Linked DNA regions of Homo sapiens. The protein of the gene in region 4 interacts with the protein of the main gene of each other region in a pairwise test. Each region holds a gene or a part of one and is shown on either strand. Other genes may lie near its edges.

Region 1 (3,120 bases), on a different chromosome or scaffold from region 4:
GAGGCTGGAACTCTGTCCACAAGTGTCTCCCTTGCTCAGGTTCTCCCCCTCCTTGATCCTCTTCCCTGACTCCCTTAGCGGAAGCCCCCTGGGAGCACATCCTTAAAACGTCCTAATCCCTTACACACAAGGCCACGTCTTGGGGTTACTTCTGGAAGAACCCTACCTAAGACAGTTTCTTTTTTCCTTGCAGACCTTATCAGAGCTTTCGTCATGCTATGGTGAATAATGATTTCCCGACGGAGGAAAAGTATGCAGTGTTTTGCAAAATTGTTTAACAACGACCACCCCCTTTACCAGAACCTGCCTGAGCTAGTGTTTTCACTGGGCTCCCTGAATGCTGCCTGAACTAATAAAACAGAAAGTTTGAACGAACTGTTCAAGGTTGCCCAGCAGCTCCGAGGGATCGCTTCGCCTCCCTTGAATGCACCCGGGGTTATTGTAGAAAGGGGTGGGAAGTGAGAAGAGCTACATTTGGCCAAAGAAGTGAAAAAGCCTCATTCCAAAGAATTGTAAAATTTATTGTATAAGTATTGCAGCTTTTCAGAATGTCATCATTGCCACTAATGATTACTGATACACAACAAGCAGTTTCTTCAGGCCTGTGGATTGGCATCCAAATACAGAGTCTTACGCAGCGGGGACGTGGGTGCGCGCCCCGCATGCCACGGAAAGCTTACATAAGTTTAACTTGAACAGAGCTTGGGAAATGGGGCTGCAAAGGAGAGCAGTTCCCACGCCAGGAACCAACGTGAAAGCATTGGAATCAGCACAACAGCCATGGAATCAGGCAGGCAGGGGAGGACGGGCTGTGTCCTTCTGAGCTCTATAGTACAGCAAGATTTCAAGCAGTTTCCAGAAAAACAACAACAACGACATTTTCTTTCCTTATCGACGGGATATTTTATGGTTCTGGAAGCTTCGTGTTGCACATAGGAAAAAAAATTTCTCTGAAACGTACAATTCATAGGGACGACCAATGAGGACAGGGAATGAACCCGGCTCTCCCCCAGCCCTGATTTTTGCTACATATGGGGTCCCTTTTCATTCTTTGCAAAAACACTGGGCTTTCTGAGAACACGGACGGTTCTTAGCACAATTTGTGAAATCTGTGTAGAACCGGGCTTTGCAGGGGAGATAATTTTCCTCCTCTGGAGGAAAGGTGGTGATTGACAGGCAGGGAGACAGTGACAAGGCTAGAGAAAGCCACGCTCGGCCTTCTCTGAACCAGGATGGAACGGCAGACCCCTGAAACGAAGCTTGTCCCCTTCCAATCAGCCACTTCTGAGAACCCCCATCTAACTTCCTACTGGAAAAGAGGGCCTCCTCAGGAGCAGTCCAAGAGTTTTCAAAGATAACGTGACAACTACCATCTAGAGGAAAGGGTGCACCCTCAGCAGAGAAGCCGAGAGCTTAACTCTGGTCGTTTCCAGAGACAACCTGCTGGCTGTCTTGGGATGCGCCCAGCCTTTGAGAGGCCACTACCCCATGAACTTCTGCCATCCACTGGACATGAAGCTGAGGACACTGGGCTTCAACACTGAGTTGTCATGAGAGGGACAGGCTCTGTCCTCAAGCCGGCTGAGGGCAGCAACCACTCTCCTCCCCTTTCTCACGCAAAGCCATTCCCACAAATCCAGACCATACCATGAAGCAACGAGACCCAAACAGTTTGGCTCAAGAGGATATGAGGACTGTCTCAGCCTGGCTTTGGGCTGACACCATGCACACACACAAGGTCCACTTCTAGGTTTTCAGCCTAGATGGGAGTCGTGTACAAACCTTGGCAAAAAAAGGTTGGAGGAGCAGGAGTAACCTCACCAAGCTAGGCACCTCCCTGGTAGAGACAGGGTGAGGACGCGCGAGGATGATGGGGTGTCTGAAAAGCAGGAGCCCTTGGTGGACCCTGGGAGGGGATACCAGTCCCAGGTGAGTGAGGCACTGTCCGGGAACGTCCTCACCGAGCGACGGGAGTGTCACTGCTTCTTCAGTAAGGCACTAGAGACGCGTCACATAAAGGAAAGATACGTTTTAATCATCTTTACAAGTGCGTCCTTGTACCTTTCGGGATAACCTGTACTGATTTCTCTGCAGGACCTTTTCAAAGAATCCTCTTCAAGAGAGAAACAAATTTTAGGCTGACGACTTCACGGAGAGGCAGGTTCTGCTGTTGCCAATGAACGAGAACTTTCTACTAGGCTGGCGGCATGCAGAGCCCACGTCTGTCAGCTGCCACCTTCGTAAAGCACACGTTTCACATGCATGAGCTCGAGTGGCTAGAACTTCAAAACTGTGCTCAGGTTTTTGTTTTGGAAGTTATAAAAAAGTTGCTCACAAACAATAGTTATTGCCTTTTATATCTTTTATGTTAGTCTACTAGTCAGCATTCTGCCCAAAATGGAAAGCCACTCCCATGGGAAGGGAGGGGGTAGCAGCTGGGAGTCTGCTCTTCCAGCTGGGGGCCCTCCCACCCCCATGGGGAGGAAAGACGTCAAGCTCCAGCCACTGGCCCCGGTGGGTCCCAAAGCCCCACCCCTCATGCTCTCCTCTGGTCACCTCTATTTACGCTCACATGCCCCTTCCTGTCCTTCACCTGCACGTCACCAGCAGGTCCCGCCAACCCCAAATCTATCTGGTGAAAACCTGGAGAACAAGAGCGGAGTCTAAGAGAGATGTAAATGAAAACACAGATCAACAGACACACCAGAAGGGAAGCGTTGTTTCCGCGGGGAAAGGAGATGGAAAGGGGAAGAGAAGGTGAAGAATTCTGCGCCCGAAGCTCGGGTTGGTGTTTGCTCAACTGCTTTACTCATTTTAACCCTTTCACCTATCCTGGGAGAAACCCAGGCTTGTCACCTTTTCATGTTGGGTTGTTTATTGGCCTCTTAAGTGAGAATTGATCCGTGAAGGGAAACAGACAGGAGGAGGTCAGATTGCGAATACCTGGGGCTTCCTAGGGTCCAGTGCGGCAGTTACCGCACCTGCCTTCACCGGTGAACCTTTAGCCAGCTGAACAACCACCAAAGCGCCCTGCAGAGACAAGTCATCGAGCCCTCTGGCATGTCCCTGGTAGCCCGGGCACCAGCCGCTGCGGCTTGTGAGGGGCACCATGCTCCACCC
Region 2 (3,500 bases), on a different chromosome or scaffold from region 4:
ATCAAGGAGTCTCCAACCTATTTCTTGAACATGGATCTGGTTTTTACTCTGGGGATGTAGCCTATTAAAGAAAACCGAAGACTGAGGGGGTCTTGGGCATTGACGTGGTTGACATGGGCATTTCTTAAAGCAGAGCCCCCCCAAACCCCACTCATTTCCTTTCCTAAGAATTTCCAAACCCAAACTCAAGTGGAGCCGGGCGATGCTTGGGGTTGAGTCAGTGCTCAGCTGTAGAGGGTTGGGGGAGGGCCCTTCCCTCTCTCCCCCTCTGCAGGCAGCAACCCTGTACCCAGTCACAGGGTACAGTTTTCCAGTACAGGAGGAGGAGGATTCTCTGGTCAATGGTGTATCTGCTGCTGCATTCCACCTGAGTGAGTCTTCAGGGCCTATTTGTAGCCTGAAAGCAGAACATGCTTTGAATTTCCATCTTCAGTGCTCCTGAGCCTGCACCAGTGAAGTCTTCCTGGGGACTTGGTGATGGACTTGAAAGAGCCAGGCTCTAGAGTCTCTGCAGAGGGTGACCCAGGATGAGTCTCTCACCATTTCTGAGCCTCAGTTTCCTCATTCACCTTCGTTGTCATGTGGCTGCAGGGAGTATTGTTATGAGATAATGGACATAAGAAGCTTTCTGAAAAGAAGCAAGACCCTCATTCTTTAATAAAAATTTGATCAACTTTCCCAGTAGAACAGGGCTTTAATTTCAATCACCATTATCCATTTCCTTTTGCAGTGGTGCTCAATCTTGGTGGTGCATTAGAATCCCCTAGGAGCACTGACAACGGGCAGATTCCTGGGTCCCACGATAGGCAATGAGAGCAGAATTTCTAAAAGTGAGGCCTGGGCCATCCAGAGTTTCAGAACCTCCCAAGGTGATTCTACCTACCTTGCCAGGACTGAGAGCCATGGGGATCTGGGGAAAGAAACAGTAGTTAAAAACAAAAACAAAAACAAAAACAAAAAACCAACCTGCCAGTATGTAGCAGATCCATTTCCCTCCACAGACCCTTGTTAACACAAATGAGGTAAAATAAGAAATTGCTTAATAGGAAAGGAACTTTCCTTCTATGTCAACTCTAGCAGCATCTTCCTTCAAAGTGAGGCTTTTATGGGCATTATCAAAACTACCATAGAAGCTGTTTATTCTGTGGTCAGCTTGGATAAAGTATGCCCCCTCTTTCCCCAGTTGTTCTTCGGGAAGAAATTCTACAATAGTTTAGGATCTAAAACAGAGCCTGTTACTCTGACCTCTTGGCCCTCAGCAAGCCCTCTCCTCTCTCTGGACACGTAACAAACAGGCAACGGGGATAGAAACTTTCCAGGCAGGGGACACAGCAGCGAAGAAATACAGATGTCATTTGTTGGAGAGAAAAAGTCAAGTGTTTATAAGTGCTAGGAAGGTGGCTCATGGGGGCTATGCTCATTAAAGATGGAAGGCTGGCCCTCTGGAGAGGATAGAAGTCCATAGGTCTCATTGATGAAAGCAAATTGCACTGTTCATTTGCCAGGAAAGAATCTTCACTCTTAGATCCAGGAAGGGTCTGGCTTCTCAGAGTCACTCAGCATTTATAGTTCTTAAACAGTTTCAGTGGAATGGGGGAGTTGGAATGAAGCCCGTTGGCAAGTCCTGCTGTAAGGGGGAGAATCTCTCTTTCATAATAACTTTGCCAGGACCCCTCCCCCACGAAGGGACCCTTTGTGCTAGTGCCTCGCTTCCAACTGGAGGCTTGATGTGTTGCGTGCTGAACCTGCAAACATCTCCACTTCAGGCATTAGCTCATCACCTTCTGCCTTCCCCTTCAGGTCAAGCAAGGGATGAGAGCCTCGCTTACGAACAGACAAATATAGAGGAAAACGAGGGAGTGCTTTCTCATCTTTTCATTCAGGTTGCAGAGTCTCATTCTTCTCAGTCCCAGAATTCCAGAAGTTTTATTGTTAGGAAGAAAGAAGATGATATCCTTTTCAAATTTTTTCTTCCACCAATCACATTTTGTATATAGCCACAAAGAATAAAATGAAACAACTATAAATTCAGAGAACACTGCTCCCCAAAAGGCAGTGCCTGCAAGCAACTAGCCCCAGAATCTGTTTTCTCATCCATTTCTTTTAGCTTTTTAAAATCCTTTTTTTGTATTTCAAGAACAGACAAACTTTTGTTCTCTTTTTTTTTCTTTCATTCTTTGATACTCCATAGCAGAATGCAGGTGTTCTGGCTTTTATATGTATTTTATAAATTATTTTAAAACTTAGGTTCATCATTATCTAGATCATCTGGTACCTTGGGCAGAGATTTGTGGAATTTTCTGTCAACGTTGGTGAAAAATCTTGTGGAGGATTTTGCTATTATTTTGAATTTTGCTGTTGACGGTTCTTTACCCACAGGACAAAAACAAGAGTCATGTAGAATGTAAGACATAATTGAATTTTCCTGAGTCCTTAGCTGTTTTTTAAATAGAGGTGAAACTCATATAAAATGAAATTAACCAAAGTATATGATTCAGTAGCATTTAGTGCATTCACATTATTTCGTAACCATCATCTTTATCTAGTTCCAAAGCATTTTCAGTACTTCAGAGAGACCCCATACCCATCAAACAGTCACTCCCCATTCCCTTCTCCCCCATCCCCTGGCAGCCACTAATCTGCTCTGTGTCTCTATGGATTGTTTGCTTTTTGACTGATGGGTTTAAAAGCAATGATGGGGTTGCATTTTATACACTGTCATTTGCTTAAGGAACTCTGGCCACTTCGTCGGAGAGCAGCTTCTATTATTCTCCCTCTCCTGGCCAAGGAGACCATGGTATGGAGAGGTGAGTGGTTTTCCCCACAGTTTAGAGCAAAGCCAGTATCCGGGCATCACTGCAGTCACGTGGCCAGTCTGTAGAACGTGCTTTCTGACGCCAAGTCGCTTTTCCTAGGATGGTTGGTCCTGATGTTATTCCCCTGCCACACATCTACGGAGCTCGAATCAAAGGTGTGGAAGTGTTCTGTCCTCTGGATCCCCCGCCGCCATATGAAGCTGTGGTGAGCCAGATGGACCAGGAGCAGGTACTGTCTGTCCTGAATCTCTCTAAGTACATTGACTGCAAGTGGGAAAGACAGCACCGCCCCACCCCCTGCCCCCAGAGAACAGCAGGGAGACCGGGCCCCACACATCTTTTTAAGGAGTTCACTGGGTCTAATGAGGGGTGAGTTAAACATCAACAAAATAACCCTGTTTTTTGCTGTGATGCAGGGATCTTCATTCCAAATGTCAGAAGGATCAGAAGCTGCTGTGATCCCATTGGATCTGGGCTGCACACAAGTGACTCAAGGTAATAGATACATTGTGACATGATTCAGTAGATTAAAACATGATAAAATAGGCTGGGCAAGGTGGCTTATCTCTGTAATCCCAGCACTTTGGGAGGCCGAGGTGGGAGGATCACATGAGGCCAGGAGTTTGAGGCCAGCCTGGACAACATGGAGAGAGACCCTATTTCTACAAACGGAAAAAAAAAATG
Region 3 (3,500 bases), on a different chromosome or scaffold from region 4:
CCGCAACTAGTTCTCAGAAATTCACCATCTGACATCATATTAGATAATCCTAAAAATAAAAGTAATGTTTACTTGGTGCTAGATATTTTTAAAAGTAGATAAAGTCATATAAATATGAGCAAAATTTCAAGTCCTGGATCCTCCATATATCATTTTTTTTTAAGTTATTAAAAAAAAGCAGTGGAAAGCATTTAACTGGAAAGAGACCGTCTCAGAGTGCTTACACTGTAACAAAAAGCTAAAGCACATCACATATATGAGTGAAACTAAATTTCCTTTCTAAATAAAAATGTTGATTCCCATCACAAATGAGGTTATTCTGAAGCATATTAACTTTCCCAAACATGAAAACATCAAAATATTATTTACCTATTTCCATAGTTGAAAGAATAAAATAGAGACTACTACTTTTTTGCCCTGTGCTTTCAAAAGCCTCTTTAAATTCTGTAATTAGAAACCAGATGGGCCCCACCTCATAAAGAGATTATGTTCCAAAAGTTTTTAATTTAGAAATATTTAATTCAACATGGAAAAAATAATCTATTGAACCAAAAATCTAGCTGAGCTATAGTAATAAATAAGTTTCATGATTTAGAGAAGGAAGAGAAATAGAGAAAGTAGTTTCTAGGTTTTTAGATTAAAGACAAGGTATAGACCACAAATAGGCAACAATAGCCTGTACCTTTCTATCTCTTTCTCTTTAATCTCTCACTTCCTAGTCTTTTTCTCAAATACCCTATTAAGGCATCCTTTCCACGTATGTTTATCCCAGAAAGTGTTTGGAGTATAAAAATCACATTTTATGTACCTTTTACCCCTGACAAAAACTGTTCTCTAATCAAGTTATTAGACGTTACACCTAAGGACCTCTTTGTGGATCAGTTCAGAAGGGCTTTTTTCCAACTGCATGCATATTTTCAGGTACCTTGGTTTATATGCATTCATCAGGGAAAGTGCCCATACTTTCATGAGATTTTCAAAGAAGTCTGGGACTCCTCCCCTCTCTTCAAAAAAAAAAAAAACAAAAAAACAGTTATGCATCATTTCCTTAGGAGAAAATGCAGATTGAATGGATTTATCTTGATGACAACCTTCTAACTTCTCTAGAGGTATCTGCATTTTTAAAGTGTATTTAATGAAAATTAATGAAAATTTAATTAAATGAAAAAAAAAAGCTACTGAGGAGATTTCAGCTAATTCCTTTTCATGGTACAGAACGTACAAGGTTGAAAAGTAAAGTTCTTAGTTCAATGAGTTGTTATGCTTTAAAAGGTAGCTAGTACCTTTCTGAACAACCCTGGAGTTACATACCGAAATCGGCTATCTTGGCATTCATGTGTGCATCCAACAGGACATTCTCTGGTTTCAGGTCTCGATGAACAACCATATGCCTATGACAGTAATCCACAGCAGACAGAATCTGCTGAAAGAGCCGCCTGGCTTCCATCTCTTCAACCTATCAAGCACAAAAGAAACTGCATTAAGAATATCTGGGGCTGGGCACAGTGGCTCATGCCTGTAATCCCAGCCAAGGCAGGTGGATTACCTGAGGTCAGGAGTTTGAGACCAGCCTGACCAATAAGGTGAAACTCCATCTCTACTAAAAATACAAAAATTAGCCGGGCATGGTGACATGCACCTGTAGTTCCAGCTACTCAGGAGAGTGGGACACGAGAATTGCTTGTACCAGGAGGCAGAGGTTGCAGTGAGCTGAGATCATGCCACTGCGCTCCAGCCTGGGCAACAGAGCAAGAGTCTGTCTCAAAAAAAAAAAAAAAAAAAAAATCTGAGACATCTATTTGACAAGAGTTTTAATTTCATAATTAGGCTAAATATAATTAAGCAAGCTAGAATTATGTTGGAATTCTCAACAAATCAGACAAAATAAACCAACCAAAAGCTTGTCAAAGCTCAACATGTCAAAAGACAAGTTTGTCTTTGTCGCTAAGCAGAAATATTTAAATTTCAATTAATATTATTAAATGTGCACAATGTTTTGGGGAATTGACAGTAAAACAAACTAAAACAGAACATATGTGAAAGTGCTAAGAAAAGGAAATAACTGATCTTCAACATGATTTTATGGAACAGATTTTAAAAAGCATACGCATCATGTTGGCAATTAAGTGAAACATATTTTCTAAAATCAGTATTTCAAAAGGAATGCTTTTTAAGAAAGAAAATTTATCTAACACTCTACATGTTTAGTTGAGCACTACCATAAAAGCAACTTCAACCTTGAAGATATCTTTGCATTGTTCTATGTCCCAATACTTTCCTTTTTATTAGTTTAGAGATTTAGTGTACCAGATAGTATGTTACTCACCCGTCCATGCTTACAGATGTAGTCAAATAATTCACCTCCAGACACATATTCCATTACCATAAAAAAATCTGTTGGAGTGCTGATCACCTGGTATCTTTTTTGTTAATTAAAAAAAGTTAACAAAGTATGTTACTTTAACCAAAATCAAACTGGTATATCTACTCTTGCTACAATTTTATATTTCAATGTTTTATAATACTTTAAGATGGCAACAAATTACATGTTATCAAAATAATCACAGAGCAATAAACACGGACCATTACAAAATTATTCTATTTCTTGAGGCTCACGGCCGTTCCTTTAGATCCTCCCTTTCAAGTTTACATAATTTTTGAAATCTTTCCCTCTTCAACAACTAATTTTTCCATATAAACAAAAATTTGTTTACAGTAAAAGGAGATGAGGTATCACATATTTAAAGATAAACAGAAAATATACTTGGGCCAGACACTATGGCTCATGCCTGTAATCCCAGCACTTTGGAAGGCCAAGGTGGGAGAATCACTTGAGCTCAGGGCAATGTTTTGGGGAATTGACAGCAAAACAAACTAAAACAGAACATACATGAAAGTGCTAAGAAAAGAAAATAACTGATCTTCAACATGATTTTATGGAACCGATTTTGAAAAGCATAGGCTTCATGTTGGCAATTAAGTGGAATATATCTTCTAAAGTCAGTATTTTACCAGCCTGGGCAACATAGCAAGACCTCATTTCTGTAAAACATACATATATTTTCCTGGACACGTAACATGATACTACAGGGATACATTCAGCAAAATCCAGGAAGTGAAAAATGACCATTTCCTCAACAAATAAAATGCAAGAAAAAAAGGGAAAGGATAAACTATACGTTAAAAGTAACTTAAGAGACATATTGACCAATTATGCTGTATAGACTTATTTTGATTCTGATTCAAATAAACCAACTTTAAAAACCATTTATGAAACAATCAGGAAAGTCTACATGCTGATTAGTGGTGGATAATGTTGTTAATTATTTTAATTAAGATGTGATAGGCCGGGCGTGGTGGCTCACGCCTGTAATCCCAGCACTTTGGGAGGCCGAGGCGGACAGATCACAAGGTCAGGAGATTGAGACCATCCTGGCTAAACCAAACACGGTGAAACCCCGTCTCTACTAAAAATACAAAAAATTAGCTGGGCATGGTGG
Region 4 (3,500 bases):
TACTGGCATGGCAAGCACACCCCCAGCAAGCTGCCCAGCATTTCTAGTAAGGAAAAAAGCAAACCGCCGTCCCACCTCGGGCTGCGCGGTCACAAGTGAGGCAGGGCTGGGACCAGTCGCCATTTGGGCGGGAGGCCAGCCCCAGGTGCGGCAGGAAGGGGTGGCGCTGGCTCAGTGGCTGCAGCTCCTCACTCTGACCCAGCGGGGCCCCTGTGCGGTGCTGGGGGCACAGCGAGGCCTCAGGCGCTGTGGGGCAGGGACACACACACACACACAGAGAGACACGCCATTAGAGGGTGCGCAGCAGCCCCTGCAGGAGGTACGGGCCAAGGCCACTCGGGGTCAACCCCGCAGCCCACTGCGGTGGAAGCTGTGAAAAGCCCACTGACCACATTCTGACCCTGAACATGCAGCTCAAGCGTAAGGTCTGAGGGAACCAAAAACATCACAGCTGGAACTGCAGCAGTATCATTTAGCCCAGCAGGACCTATGGCTACAGGCCCTGGACTCGGTATGAGGAGGAGGGGTGGATCAAACCAGGCTCCTGCATCCCCACTGTTCCAACCCCTGCATCTGCAAAGTTCCACAAATTGTTCATGGAACATGAAGCTGTTTCAGCTCCTTGCTTAGCATCCTCTGGCTTCTTGAGAATAATGACCATGAAAAGCACATAAAGAGAATGGCAGCTCCCCTTGGCCTGCATCAAAGCCACAGCCACAGTCACAGGGACAGAGGAAGTCAAGGCAGGTTGGGACCAACTCAATCCAAAGAGAGCCTCTCTGGGGGTTGGTAAGAGGATCCTTGAGAGAAATAAAACAATTTCACTTCTTAAAGGGCAATCTTCATTTGTTTTGGTGCAATTTAACCCTGCATTGAGGCTTCTGGAGATTAAGGTTAAATTGTTTTCAAGTGGTTTAACCAAGGTCACAACCTTTGCTTAAGCAAAACAGTTCAAACTAAGAAGAAAAATGACAACTACATATGGGACAAGAATATGTTAACCTGCTCCAAGCTCGGTAATAATTCAGAATTCCTAGAAGCAGGAAATCTGACTTTAATATGCAAATCTCTCATTTAACACATTTCTCAAAATGCTAGTGGTGGCGGTACAATGTCAAATCGAAACCTGCAAAAGCAGGAAATGTTAGTAAATGGTCTGGTAACAGAACACTGACTAAGTAAGGGTTGACTGAGGTCTGTCAAACTACAGACAACTTCCTTTAAAAAGAAGTTTTCTGCTATGCTGACATAGTGTTACTAGGGATCTGCACTTTTGTTTTAGCAGCCAGAAGATATAATTTCTACAATCCCCACCTCCATCCTCACCCTGTCCCCCAAAGGCCACTAGGGCCACCTGTCTCTCTGAGTGTGGGGTCCACACTGTGGCTGGAATAGCACTGTGAAAATGGAGAAACACCTGTTGGGGGACCACTTCCAATGAACAGCCAGGATGCCAATGTGACTCACAGAGACCAGCTTCCATCAGGCCCTGAACTCCACTCTGTTCCCTGAAACCTCTTCTGACCATAAGGCAAAGACCCAAATTAATCCAACATGCAAAACCAGAACTCAATGCAGACCCAGCCATGCAACCAGATCACTAGCAACTCTCATTTGCATGTTTGGCAGGGAGGCCTTGTTCACACTAGCAACCTGTACAAGTTTTTTTGCTGAAGTAGAATAATACTGAGCCATTCAAGAGACCTGAAGCTCAGTCAGCAGAAAAACACTTAATATGAGATTAAAGAAACAAGATTATCAAGAAAGAGCATTTGTTTCCTCCTGGCTACCAGAGTCAACTCCCCATTGTATGTGCAGCAGGACAACTCCTTTGCTGCCAGACCCATTCTGACAAGGAAGCAGAAAAGACCTGCCTCTGCCCACCGTCTGCCCAGATGTACAGAATGAGGCCCAGAGCAGCAAAGGGCGTTAGAGATCCCTGAACCAGAGCAGCCAAGGGACTAAAAGTCCCTTTATAACCAAAACTCAATCCAGACCAAGGACAATTTGCCTGGGCCACCAAAAGCTGGGTACTGAGGACAGGTTCGAGCTCTGCAGTGGCCACCACTCCCTAAGCCCAGAGACACCCACCCTGCCTGTCACCCATTGCTGCTGCTCTGGCAAAGGGTGAGAAGCACTTCCATTACTCACAGCCATGGTAGGAGGCCGGGGAGCCCCCGGCCTTGCCATACTCCTGCTCCGAGTGGCTGGTGGAGAGGTTGGGCTGGCTGGAGCCTCGCCCAAAGGTGATCTGGTTGCTGCCCATGCCAGTGGCAACCTGGGCCATGCGCTCTTTGGTTTTGAGAGCCTGGGCCCTCTCAGCCTTCAACCGTTCCTCGTCCTTGAGGAGAGCCACCAGTTGCTTTGACTTCTCACGCACATTGATGCCCTGGTCCTTGCCATCTCGGTCAATGTACTGGAAGTCCTTCAGGGTCTGGATGGCGAAGATGTTCTCCCGGCACTGCTGGGCCACACGTTCGGAGCCTGTCTTGATGAGGTAGTCCAGCAGGGTCAGCGCCTTGTACACATGCCGCCAGTTCTTGCCATGGTCATTCAGCCGCTTCCACACCATGCTCATGATCTCCGAGAAGGCCACCACGTTGTAGGTCAGGTCGGCAATCTCGGTCATCAGAGAACTGGACGGGCCCCACGGGTCATTGGAGGTGGCTTCCCGGACTTTGATTTCTGCCTCTGAGTAATTGTTCACGATGTTTTTCATCTGCCGTCTGATAGACGAAGTCGTCATTTTTATTTTCTTTGTTATAAGTTTAAAGCCCTTCAAACAGAGAAACCTTCCTGTCCTTGGTAAGTGCGCACCCTATGAAGGTTCAGTCTCCGTAATCAAGCTGGAGTAAGATCCCTGAATGGTCATTTCCTCCTTTGGAGCCTCAGATTCGAAAAGCTGGAAGCCATGACCTAGAGAAAGAGAAAACCCATTCCACTGCGACGTAAGCCCCCTGTGAGGGTGGGAGACTGTGGTCCAGCAGCAGGTACTGGGTAAAACTGGGGAGCTGAGTGGACATACCCAGCCTCCTTAGGACGAACCCAAGATAAAATCAATATCACCAGTCAACAATGAATAAAACTTACACTCAAGTTTAAGCCTTTAGGAGAAAAGAAGTAAACATCATGACTATTGCTCTATTTTCAAAACACTTCCACTGGAATGGCTATTTTATGGGTTGTCTTTTCACTGCCTGGCAAAAGCCAGCTGTGGAAGAATCGGAAACACTGGGGGAAGCTGATCTTGGCAGATTTAAAATTACATGTGAGACCAGATATGGTGGCTCACACCTGTAATCCCAGCACTTTGCGAAGCTGAAATGGGAGGATTACTTGAGGCCAGCCTGGTCAAAACAGCAATACCCCCATCTCTATTTTTTTAAAGTTTATTTAAATAAAAAAAAATACACATGAGGACAAGAAAGAGACTAATTTCAGGTCTATCTTAACTCAAAAATGCCTGTCAATACCTTCAAAACTGCTTTGGTCCACTGTGT
Region 5 (3,500 bases), on a different chromosome or scaffold from region 4:
GGAGAGAAAGGGGCCTATTTCAATATGCTCTAGGAAGCACTGGTGTCTTCAAGGTTCATCATCTACGCCAGGTGACTGAGAAACTGTGTATAACTGATAGCCCCTCACACTGCAATAAGGAAACTCCTGGACGAAAACCATGTTATGGAGGGAAGCAGGGTGCCTGCCTCTTATAACTCTACTTTGTATATATCTTGTACCTCCTTGACACTCCAGATTCTCCTAGGAGGCTGGGAAATTCGGGCTTCCTTTCCTTAAATGAGAAAAGCCCAGTCTTCCCAGACTGATACTTCCTAGTATACAAAGAATAACAAAATACAGGAAAAAGGAAGACATCATCCCCATTTCAATCAAGTCTGATCCAGGACATAACCAAAACATTGTGTGTTCATTAGTAGTTTGTACTTCTTTTTTCCTTTTTCTTGAGACAGTCTCACTCTGTTGCCCAGACTGGAGTGCAGTGACACAATCATAGCTCACTGCAGCCTTGAACTGCTGGGTTTAAGTGATCCTTTTGCCTCAGCCTCCAGAGTAGCTGGGATTACAGGCGCAGAATCTTCCCGTCAGCAGTTGGCATTTCATTTGTTTGTGAAATGCTTGTTCACGTCCACTACCAATTTTTCTATTGGGGTGGTGCTTCCTATTGATATAAGTCTTTCTTGTAAAGAACAATATCTTGTTGCAAATCTCTTTATCTGTCTTTCAGGTTTTGTTTTTGAGTATGTTTGGTCACATAATAAATGCTATCAAATCTATAAAAAGTTTCCTTTATTGTTTCTGCCTTTGGAGCCACATTTTGAAGGGCTCTGTGGCTGGCTATTAATAACCCTCCCCCCAGTGGCATAAATCAAACTCCCCTTTCCTTCTAACACTATGACAAGAATCCACTGCAGAATCTTTCTGCATTAAGCACATATTGGTTTAATGAAAAAGAAATGTTTTTAACCGTAATGAATGCTGTAATAAAAGCCACAGAAAAATTCAGAATACAATACTTATTTTTTTAAGTTCTAATTAACTTAACCTTTAAAATCATTACAGGGATTCTTCTGTTAGTTCAATTTCTATACTTTTCTTAGAAACCTTTATCTAGAATTGTTAGGGAAATGCTCTATCTACAAATTCCCAAACTTGATATTTCACTACTTCATTACCAAGATTCTCATTGCTTACTGCTTCTCAATTCATTTAGTTCATCAGGCTTCTTATAAAACAAGTAAGTGTTGGGGCTTGGTCTTACACCCAGGCAATCTGACTCTAGAGTCTTATCTCTGAACCCATTTGCTATCCCTAAGCCTACCAGGCCACAAAGTGATACCAAAAAGTAACAATTAACCTAGTCTCCTATACAGCAGCCTCACCACACTTCACCCCAGGTTTCCCCCCAATTGTTTAGAATTTGACTTCTCTATAGATTGCCTGGCACACTACCTACGGTGGTTCTTCTTCCCTTACCATGTGCTGATCTTCCTCCTCACCATCCCAGTGAAAGGACTTACCTCCAACAATACAGGAAAATCAGCAAAAGTGCACAGGAGCTCTGCCACATGCTTTCTTCTCACTCGGACCCCATTCTGTTTCTTTCTCAGACAACTCTCCCTCCTTACCACGGTCAACATTTGTCACTTGTGCTCCAGATGGCTAACTCCATCACCTCCAATTGCTCTCTGTCCACTGACTTCTTCCCCTCAACCTTCAAATATGAAGAGGTCTCATCTATCTTAAAATTCAAGTCACTTAAGGCAATATAAGACTCTCTCACTTCTTAATGTATTCAGCCTTCTCTGAAATTGCATTCACATGATTATCTGACTTCTTCTCCTTCACCCTGAACTGTACATTTTCCCCTCCAAACCTACTTCTAGAATCTCTCTTCCAGTGGCTTCCTGGTTTTCCCACTCCTCTGACCCCATGCCTTTCTTCCAGTTTCTTCTTTGGTCTATGTCAAACAGCCTCTCAGGCAGTCTACTTCAAATTAGCCTCTTCCTTCTATTAATTCCTAACCGTGGGCTCCAATGGAAGATTCAATCCACCAGTTCTTTCTCTCTTTGTGGTTGTCTCAGAATACCCAGCAGATGACTGCAGAGAGTCTAACGTAAAGCTTTCAAGTCCTCCCAAACCTTATCTCCAACCTGCCTGTAGCATACTTTGACTTAGATATCGCACCTTAAATTTAACACATCAAGTCTAATTTATCATTTGCACAATTTTTATTTCTTCTACAACCAGCTCTTCCCTATTCTTAAGTAACATCTTTATTAGTTTTCCAGCCACCAAGTTTAGAAACTTAAGGATATATCTCCGACATCTCTTTCTCATTACTTTATAGCCACATAATCACCAAGCCTTCATGGTTTTTTGTTTTATTTTATTTATTTATTTATTTTTAAATCCTTCTCTTTCCATGTCTACCTTTACCAGAGATTTATCATCTCACACATAACTCAATAGCTTTCTTACTGATCTCCTGGCACTGGGCTCTATCCCTCCAGTGCAAACTGCATGTTCAAACACTTTCAGTGACTTCCCAATGTTTCCTTATTCTGGCACTCTAAGGCCCTAAAATTCTCACTGGAAGTCAACCTTTCTGAGCATCTCCTCCACACCACCATACTAGGCTCCATGAGGAACACCCACTGAGGTCAGGCAGGGCTGCTCACTGCCTCTGGATCTGTGCTATTTGATATGATAACCACATGTGGCTACTGAAACATAAATTAATTTTTTAAAAAATGCTGTTCCATGTGTGGCTACAGCTACTGTATTAGCACAGATGTGGAACATTTCCATCACTGCAGAAATTCTATTGGACAGTGCTGCTCTACAGATACTCAACACTCATGCTTATCTCCCAGTTTTTCATGCCATTACTCTGTCTATAATGTCCCTCTTCCTTCTGCCTATGCAAACTCACATGTCCTTCCAGGCCACAGTGGTCCTGATGTGAGTTGTCTGTACAATTTACTCCTATACTACCTTGTAACGGCTCTTATAATGTTGCTGCATTTAATTTTTCATGTTTGTGTATACTCTAATTATTAAGCCTCAGAACTAATAAATATTCAGGGAATAAATGAAGCATATACTTATTACAATACTGCAGCAAAATGATCAAATAAGGGCCCATTTAATATCCCTCCTTCATTAAAAAGATACGTTTCTTTTCCATCTAAACAAACAAAAGATCTTGCATTTAGTTAACTGAATAATGGCTTAATTAATGCCTAATTATAACCGTTGAGAGAGTCTCCCCCCCACCTTTTTTCTTGAAGTGTTTGAAACTAAAAGAAAAAAAAGCTATAAAGGTCTGGAATACTTCTACTTTGCATAAGCACACCACAAAGAAACCACACACACACACACACACACACACACAAAAAGACAGGGAGAGGATAATACATGAATAGTTGGAGTAACTATACCCTAACAATCTCAGATTGTAGAGCAAAATATCCACAGTACAGCAGCCCTACAATTAAGGGGAAACTACAAATAAAGCA
Region 6 (3,500 bases), on a different chromosome or scaffold from region 4:
GGGTCATAAAAGGATAAGAAGTTTTGAAGCAATTCCTATGAAGAATTTTAATGTACAGATTCTTTAAAGCTTCCCTCGGGCTCGAGCAAAACATTATTATTTAGGTCATGAAATTCTAGAAGAAAAAGGAATCCCTGAGGATATTGCCCTGTACACAGCTGGAAGCAGCTGTGAAGCTTGTCCCTACATGCAGGGCGTGGTTTCAGCAGATAAGCAAGAAGAAAAGACGGAAGACCAATTTCTGGGGACGGATACGCTTAAGAGCAGCAGGGATGACTTGGCCTCCCAGGGGGCATTTTTGTTCAGAACACTGGGGAGCGTGGTGCTCCTAGCATTAAGCGGGTGGGGGCCAGGGATGCTATTCAATATCCTACAATGCACAGGACACCCCCTACAATAAAGAAATGTCTTGGGCCAGGCATGATGGCCCACACCTGTAATCCCAGCACTTTGGGAGGCTGAGGCGGGTGGACCACCTGAGGTCAGGAGTTCGAGACCAGCCTGGCCAACATGGTGAGACCCTATCTCTACTAAAAGTACAAAATATTAGCCGGGCCTGACGGTGCACACCTGTAATCCCAGCTACTCAGGAGGCTGAGGCAGGAGAATAGCTTGAACCTGGGAGGCGGAGGTTGCAGTGAGCCGGGATCGTGCTACTGCACTCCAGCCTGGGCAACAGAGTGAGAATCCATCACAAAAAAAGAAAGAAATGCCTTAGGCCAGGCACAGTGGCTCACACCTGTAACCCCAGCAGTTTGGGAGGCCAAGGTGGGCAGATCACCTGAGGTCAGGAGTTTGAGACCAGCCTGGCCAAGATGGTGAAATGCCAGCTCTACTAAAAATAAGCTGGGCGTGGTTGTGCACCCCTATAATCCCAGCTACACGGGACGCTAAGGCAGGAGAATCGTTTGAACCTGAGCAGTGGGGGTTACAGTGAGCCGAGATCGCCCCACTGTACTCCAGCCTGGGCGACAGAACCAGATTCCATCTCAAAAAAAAACAACACAAATGTCTGGCCCTGAATGTCAAGCATGGTGCAGTTGAGAACCCACCCCCGCCAGCACCCAGAGAGAAGGGCAGGATGGCTTGGGGCCAAGTGGGAGGCAGACTCACCCCAGCAGGCACAGGCTCCCGCAGGACAGCCAGGTCAGAGCACCGGCGTTATAGGACAGCTGACTCACGATCATCTTGTTGCAGGAAGGACAACACATTTGGATAGGGCGGTCCAAAAAGGTGATGGGGTGCTGCACGTAGACCGTCTGCACGGTAACTGATGAAAGGGAGAGGGACAAACACAGGTTGCTCAGGAAACAAGGCCAATAGCATTCACTACAGGACAAAGAGAGGAACGCAGGGATGCCAGCAAATATTATATTTGTACATTTGTGTTCATAGCATGCGTTCATCGTCTGGCTATCTATGAGAGCCAAAAGGGGAAGGAACACCAGTGTCCATCGACGGACCAATAAACTAACACAGCGAAGTTTATCCATCCACCAGAATATGATTCAGCCTCAAAAAGAAAGGAGGACCGGGCGCGGTAGCTCATGCCTGTAATCCCAACACTTTGGGAGGCCGAGGTGGGAGGACTGCTTGAGCCTAGGAGTTTGAGATCAGCCTAGGCAACATGACAAGACCTCATCTCTACAAAAAAATATAAAAATTAGCCCAGCGTGGGAGTACACGCCTGTAGTCCCAGCTACTCAGGAGGCTGAGGTGGGAGGATCAGTTGAGTCTGAGAGATTGAGGATGCAGTGAATCATGATTGCGCCACTGCTCTCCAGCCTGGACAACAGAGCGACGCTCAGTCCCAAAAACAAATAAATAAATTTTAACCAGCCTCACACTGTGCCTAGCAGCTCTTGATAAATAATCCACTCTCTTTACACAAACCCTTTGATAAACTCTGACAGCCAATGATAAGGGTAGAGTTTACCAAGCCAGGAAACGCAGGCCAACTCTGTAAGACAACAAGCTAGTGAACTGTGTTGATACAAGAAATGAAAATATAAAATAATGCTAGGAAGAAAAAGCTATGTGAAAACATGTTCGAACATTCTCAAGAATCAGAAGAGAATCCAGGCCGGGCACGGTGGCTCACACCTGTAATCCCAGCAAATCCCTTGGCTTTGGGAGGCCGAGGTGCGTGGATCACCAGAGGTCAGGAGTTCAAGACCAGCCTGGCCAACATGGTGAAACCCTGTTTCTAAAGACAAAAATTAGCCGGGCATGATGGCACGTGCCTGTAGTCCCAGCTACTTGGGAGGCTGAGGCAGGAGAATTGCTTGAACTTGGGAGGCAGAGGTTGCAGTGAGCCGAGATTATGCCACTGCACTCCAGCCTGGGCAACAGAACAAGACTCTACCTCAAAAAAAAAAAAAAAAAAAAAAAGAGAGAACCCAGGGTGATGAAAATCATCAAGCACTTCAGTTGTTAAGCTCATATTTTTGTTAAAGCAACTTCCTTCTGTTCCTTTTTACGTTAGAATGTCATTTATATAACAAATGAATTAGGGGGAAATTACTGCCTAGAGTTAACTGAACTTAGTAATACTCATAGAAAGACCCTCCTTCCAGAAAAGTAGTATTAAATCATACTTTAGCACTTACGTGTAATTTTTTTTTGGCAGGGGGGACAAGGTCTTGTTGTGTTGCCCAGGCTGGAGTGCAGGGGTACAATCATAGCTCACTGCAGCCTCAACCTCCTGGGCTTAAGCAATCCTCCCACCTCAGCCTCCCAAGTAGCTGGGACTACAGGTACAAGCCATCACACTCAGCTAATTTTATTTTCATAGAGACAATGTCTCACTATGTCACTCAGGCTGGTTTGGAACTCCTGGCCTCAGGTGATCCTCCTGCCTCAGCCTCCTCAGTAGCTAGGATTACAGGCGCAAGCCACCACACCCTGTTCATACATTTTATTAAGTGTTTTTGGGGTTCAAGAATAAGTTATTTGGACCAGGCTCTGTGACTCATGCTGATAATTCTAACACTTTGGGAGGCCAAGGGAGGTGGGAAGATCGTTTGAGCTCAGGAGTTAAAGATCAGCCTGGAAAAACAGTGAGACCCGATTTACACAAAAATTTAAAAATTAGCCAGGTGTGGTGCTGTATGCCTGTAGTCTCAGCTATTCCAGAGACTGAAGTGGGAGGATCACTTGAGCCCAGGAGGTCCAGGCTATAGCGAGCCATGACTGCACCACTGCACTCCAACCTGGGCAACATGGTGAGACCCTGTCTCAAAAAAAAAAAAAAAGAAAAAGAAAAAGAAACTATTTATTGATCACAGGATGGTCTAAGAATCTAAAGTCATTATCTCATCCTCTTCCAGCTCAAAATAACTTGAACACAACAATAAGAGTTCACTTTTATCAAACGAGTACTCTGTATTTGGCACACACAACTTCCTCTCATGTTAACAACTCACTGATATTTATAAATAGGTACTTGATGAAACCTATTTTACAAATGGGGAAGCTGAGGCACAAGGAGGTTATGTGAA
Region 7 (3,500 bases), on a different chromosome or scaffold from region 4:
CCCGCCTGGGCTTCCCAAAGTGCTGGAATTACAGGTGTGAGCCACCACACCTGGCCAGATTTACTTGTTATTTGAGAAACAGTAGGAATTGTGCCCAGGAGGAAAGAGATAGTCTTAGTGAAGGTGGGCAAAGACAGGATGATCTTTTAGATCAATAATGTGTGTAAGCTCAAAGGCTTGCAAAACTATTGTAAATGAAAACAACCCCTCACATATGGGTCGTCAGTCAGTTCCCACGGGAAATTCAGTGTTATGTTGAGTGGTCCTGAGATTTCCAGGTAACCTCACTGCACTCTTTAACTACAGTATAGGTGAAATATCAGTAGTACCAAGGTAAATTCTAAGACCAGGCAGTGCAGGGAAGGATGTAAAAGAATGATTCCTTTTTCTGGGTTCAGAGTCTGTTGGAGGCAATGTCAGGAAAAGGCACTCTTCTACTGTTTTGGTACTGTTTTCCCCTGGCTACTCACAATGGCAGTCTGGCTGTCTCCCCTCAAGTATTAGCATGTAATATGAGATGCTTCCTCTCTTAGAGATAAAGCTACCTAAATAGAAATTTTACTGAATATGGACGACAGATAAATCCCTAGCCATTCCATTTTTAACAGATATGTGTATTCAGAGGAACTTCTATAATTAATATAATTCTGGCAGAGTGTGAAAGAACTGAAAAACTTTGTGCTCAGTGTTGGTGGAGTGATCACCACAACATTTTAAAGAGAAACAAGTGAGACTGTATGAGTTCCAACTGCTGCTCCATATTTTCCAATGGTAATACAGTCTCTAACTTCTGACCTAAAAACACCCACCCTAAAATCTTGAGGACTCATATGCAAGACCTCTTTATTCTTTCATTCATTCTCAAATACTTAACTGAACACTATGCCAGGTATAGAAACACAGTGGTAAACAAGACAGATAAAGTCCCTGCTTATCTAATTTATATTCTATTACGGGGACAGAGGGGAAAAGTAAAATAAACAAGATAATTTTGGTCTGTGATAAGTACTTCCTAATAACTGAAGAAATATGATGGGAAGCAGACAACCAACTTTAGACAGAGGTAATCAGAGTAGGCTTATGAGTAGCTGGAACATGAAAGATAAGGAGCCTGTGCAAGATCTGAGAGAAGAGTGTTCTTAGCAGAGGGGCTAAGTGAAAAGACCCTCAGGTAGGCTGGCACTTCGGGGAGATGGGCTTAAGGAACAACAACAACAAAAAAGTTTGAGGGGCTGGAGCAGCTAGTGTTGGCACTATGGTATGAGTTAAGACTAAAGAGTAGAAGGGCTCAGGACATTCAGGGTCTTATAGGCCATGGAAGGAAGTTTGAATGATTGGACAGTTTTAAGGAAAGAAGGAAAATGACCTGATTTAAAATTTTTACATTTCTATTCCAGTTACTATTATAAAGCTTATGGGGGCTAGAGTGAGAACAGAAACAGTAGGAGGCCAGGTGGTTTGGACTAAGGCTGTGGCTGCAGAGATAGGAATGAACAGACTTAGGACATATTTGAATTATAGCCCATATAATTTACCAGTGATTTCAATGTGGGGATGAGGGACAGAGATGAATCAAAGATGGCTTCTGGGTTATGGGTTGAGTAGTTGGTTGGATAGTATTGTGAATACTGAGATAAGAGTTTGTGGGGAGGAATAGATTAGGTCAGTGAGTCGTGGTGGTCTTTGAGGGACTGAGGAGGACAGGCATTCTGAAAGATTTTAAAGAGAAGAGAAGAGGGCAGTTTTAGCTAACTTTGGTTTAAAGTTCCCAGTTAAGGTTGTGATATGGGACATTAAAGAGGTCGTTTGTGCACTAAGAAGAATATGCAGGGAGCCGGGCGCGGTGGCTCACACCTGTAATCCCAGCACTGTGGGAGGCTGAGGCAGGCAGATCACTTGAGATCAGGAGTTCGAGACCAGCCTGACCAACATGGTGAAACCCCGTCTCTACTAAAAATACAAAAATTAGTTGGGTGTGGTGGTGCGTGCCTGTAATCCCAGCTACGTGGAAGCTGAGGCAGGAGAATTGCTTGAACCCGGGAGGCAGAGGTTGCAGTGAGCTAAGATCGTGCCACTGCACTCCAGCCTGGGTGATAAAGCAAGACTCTCTCAAAAAAACAAAAAAAAATTAACAAACAAAAAAGAATAAGGGAATTCTGTGATCTGGAACTCAGAAGAATTTCATTTCCTTCCTTCACAGGGTTGTTATGAACTAGACTGGTCCAACAGGAAAGTATGATAGATGTGAACTGGGGCTTCTTTTCAACCTTTTCCGGAAGCTCTCAAGCTGTTCTTGTGGATAAGACAGAGAATATGTACTCCAATGCAAAGACTTTTGGTTGAATTATAACTGGCTGAAGGTATATCCAGATGGTGTGGGTTAATGTTTACTAGGTTTTCCTGAAAACTTTGCCTTTGGCTGCATCCCATTCTGTGTCTTGAACGAAGGTATAGAAGGCATCATCTCATAAATTTGGTGGAAGAGATATTAAGTATGTCTGATCTGATGGCAGATTAAAAATTCAGAAAGGTCTTGACAAATTGGTTTGATAGGCTGAACTAGCAAGATGAAATTTAATAGGAATCAATCTAAGGTCCTGCGCTTGAATCCAAGGTTTTCCATCCAGTCAAGTATAGAGCAGAAGAGACAGGACTTAGGATAGCATTTCTTGGAGGAGGGGGAGACCAAGAAATTTAATCATTCCTAAGTTCGAGGATACACTGGCAGTGTACTAGATCTGCTATGAAAGCTAATGCAATTTATATGCTCCAGTGATAATATCTAGAACTGGGAAAGTAACACTTGCGTTTGACTGTGTAATAGAAATTAAGTTTATTTTTCTTAATATGCCATCCAGGAATAAAGATAAACCAGCAGTCCCTTCACAGACTCATTAGAATGGCAAAGGCTCAAGCCCATCCCCTGGGAGTTAAGTTGAAGTAACTGGGAATACAGAACCAGGAAAAGAGAAAACTCAGTGTTCACTTTATATCTGTGCCATTGAAAGGGGATTGGAGATTTCCCGATGGTGCCCAGGGCAAAGCCAGGGCCAATGGATGGAATTTACAAGGAGAAAAATGCCAAGTCAGAGACATTTTAAAAATTGGAGGGCCTGCCTTATGTAAAGTTACTGACAGTATTTATGCGTTGATGGGATGTGTAGAAAGAATTCCTCTATCTCATAGTCATTGAACCAGATGACCTTTCAAGATCTTGGCAACCCTGAGATACATGGATAACTCTTTTTCAGCTTTCTCTTGTTGTCACAACCGTTTGCCTTTTTCTACTTGGTGGTTCTCAAGACAGCTGAAGAGGAGATAGCTGATGCACTGTTTTGGTTCCACAGGTGTCTGGTTTCTTAAGTCAGGACCTGCATATGCTGCTGGTTGATGAGATTTGTAAAGGACCTCCCTTTTCAGCACAATGACTGATGGTATTTCTTGCATTGTTGTTGTCTCCCAGGTGACTGTAGGACGAGGATTTGGTGTCACATACCAAC

The links.
Region 1: the proteins of EPN2 (region 4) and PMEPA1 interact in binary tests that used the Homo sapiens proteins (3 or more experiments, as listed by UniProt).
Region 2: the proteins of EPN2 (region 4) and ENTREP1 interact in a two-hybrid assay, tested with the Homo sapiens proteins (one large-scale study listed by IntAct).
Region 3: the proteins of EPN2 (region 4) and PRKAA2 interact in binary tests that used the Homo sapiens proteins (3 or more experiments, as listed by UniProt).
Region 5: the proteins of EPN2 (region 4) and SMAD1 interact in binary tests that used the Homo sapiens proteins (3 or more experiments, as listed by UniProt).
Region 6: the proteins of EPN2 (region 4) and LITAF interact in binary tests that used the Homo sapiens proteins (3 or more experiments, as listed by UniProt).
Region 7: the proteins of EPN2 (region 4) and RNF8 interact in binary tests that used the Homo sapiens proteins (3 or more experiments, as listed by UniProt).

What each region holds. Positions count from the first base shown.
Region 1 is NC_000020.11:57,647,896-57,651,015, forward strand, and holds the end of PMEPA1 (protein TMEPAI), read right to left. Parts: 3' UTR 501-3,120; downstream 1-500. UniProt on the Homo sapiens protein: Functions as a negative regulator of TGF-beta signaling and thereby probably plays a role in cell proliferation, differentiation, apoptosis, motility, extracellular matrix production and immunosuppression.
Region 2 is NC_000009.12:69,380,715-69,384,214, forward strand, and holds part of ENTREP1 (endosomal transmembrane epsin interactor 1), read left to right. Parts: intron 1-1,800; coding exon of another isoform or gene 1,801-1,816; exon of another isoform or gene 1,817-2,725; intron 2,726-2,731; coding exon of another isoform or gene 2,732-2,807; intron 2,808-2,915; coding exon 2,916-3,045; intron 3,046-3,232; coding exon 3,233-3,311; intron 3,312-3,500. UniProt on the Homo sapiens protein: Functions as an activator of the E3 ubiquitin protein ligase ITCH in the ubiquitination of the CXCL12-activated CXCR4 receptor. Thereby, triggers CXCR4 endocytosis and desensitization, negatively regulating the CXCL12/CXCR4 signaling pathway.
Region 3 is NC_000001.11:56,690,314-56,693,813, reverse strand, and holds part of PRKAA2 (5'-AMP-activated protein kinase catalytic subunit alpha-2), read right to left. Parts: intron 2,421-3,500; coding exon 2,327-2,420; intron 1,457-2,326; coding exon 1,312-1,456; intron 50-1,311; coding exon 1-49. UniProt on the Homo sapiens protein: Catalytic subunit of AMP-activated protein kinase (AMPK), an energy sensor protein kinase that plays a key role in regulating cellular energy metabolism.
Region 4 is NC_000017.11:19,282,366-19,285,865, reverse strand, and holds part of EPN2 (epsin-2), read right to left. Parts: intron 2,917-3,500; 5' UTR 2,747-2,916; coding exon 2,152-2,746; intron 247-2,151; coding exon 76-246; intron 1-75. UniProt on the Homo sapiens protein: Plays a role in the formation of clathrin-coated invaginations and endocytosis.
Region 5 is NC_000004.12:145,488,353-145,491,852, reverse strand, and holds part of SMAD1 (mothers against decapentaplegic homolog 1), read right to left. Parts: intron 1,577-3,500; exon of another isoform or gene 1-1,576. UniProt on the Homo sapiens protein: Transcriptional modulator that plays a role in various cellular processes, including embryonic development, cell differentiation, and tissue homeostasis.
Region 6 is NC_000016.10:11,552,420-11,555,919, forward strand, and holds part of LITAF (lipopolysaccharide-induced tumor necrosis factor-alpha factor), read right to left. Parts: intron 1,271-3,500; coding exon 1,114-1,270; intron 1-1,113.
Region 7 is NC_000006.12:37,356,983-37,360,482, forward strand, and holds part of RNF8 (E3 ubiquitin-protein ligase RNF8), read left to right. Parts: intron 1-3,463; coding exon 3,464-3,500. UniProt on the Homo sapiens protein: E3 ubiquitin-protein ligase that plays a key role in DNA damage signaling via 2 distinct roles: by mediating the 'Lys-63'-linked ubiquitination of histones H2A and H2AX and promoting the recruitment of DNA repair proteins at double-strand breaks (DSBs) sites, and by catalyzing 'Lys-48'-linked ubiquitination to remove target proteins from DNA damage sites.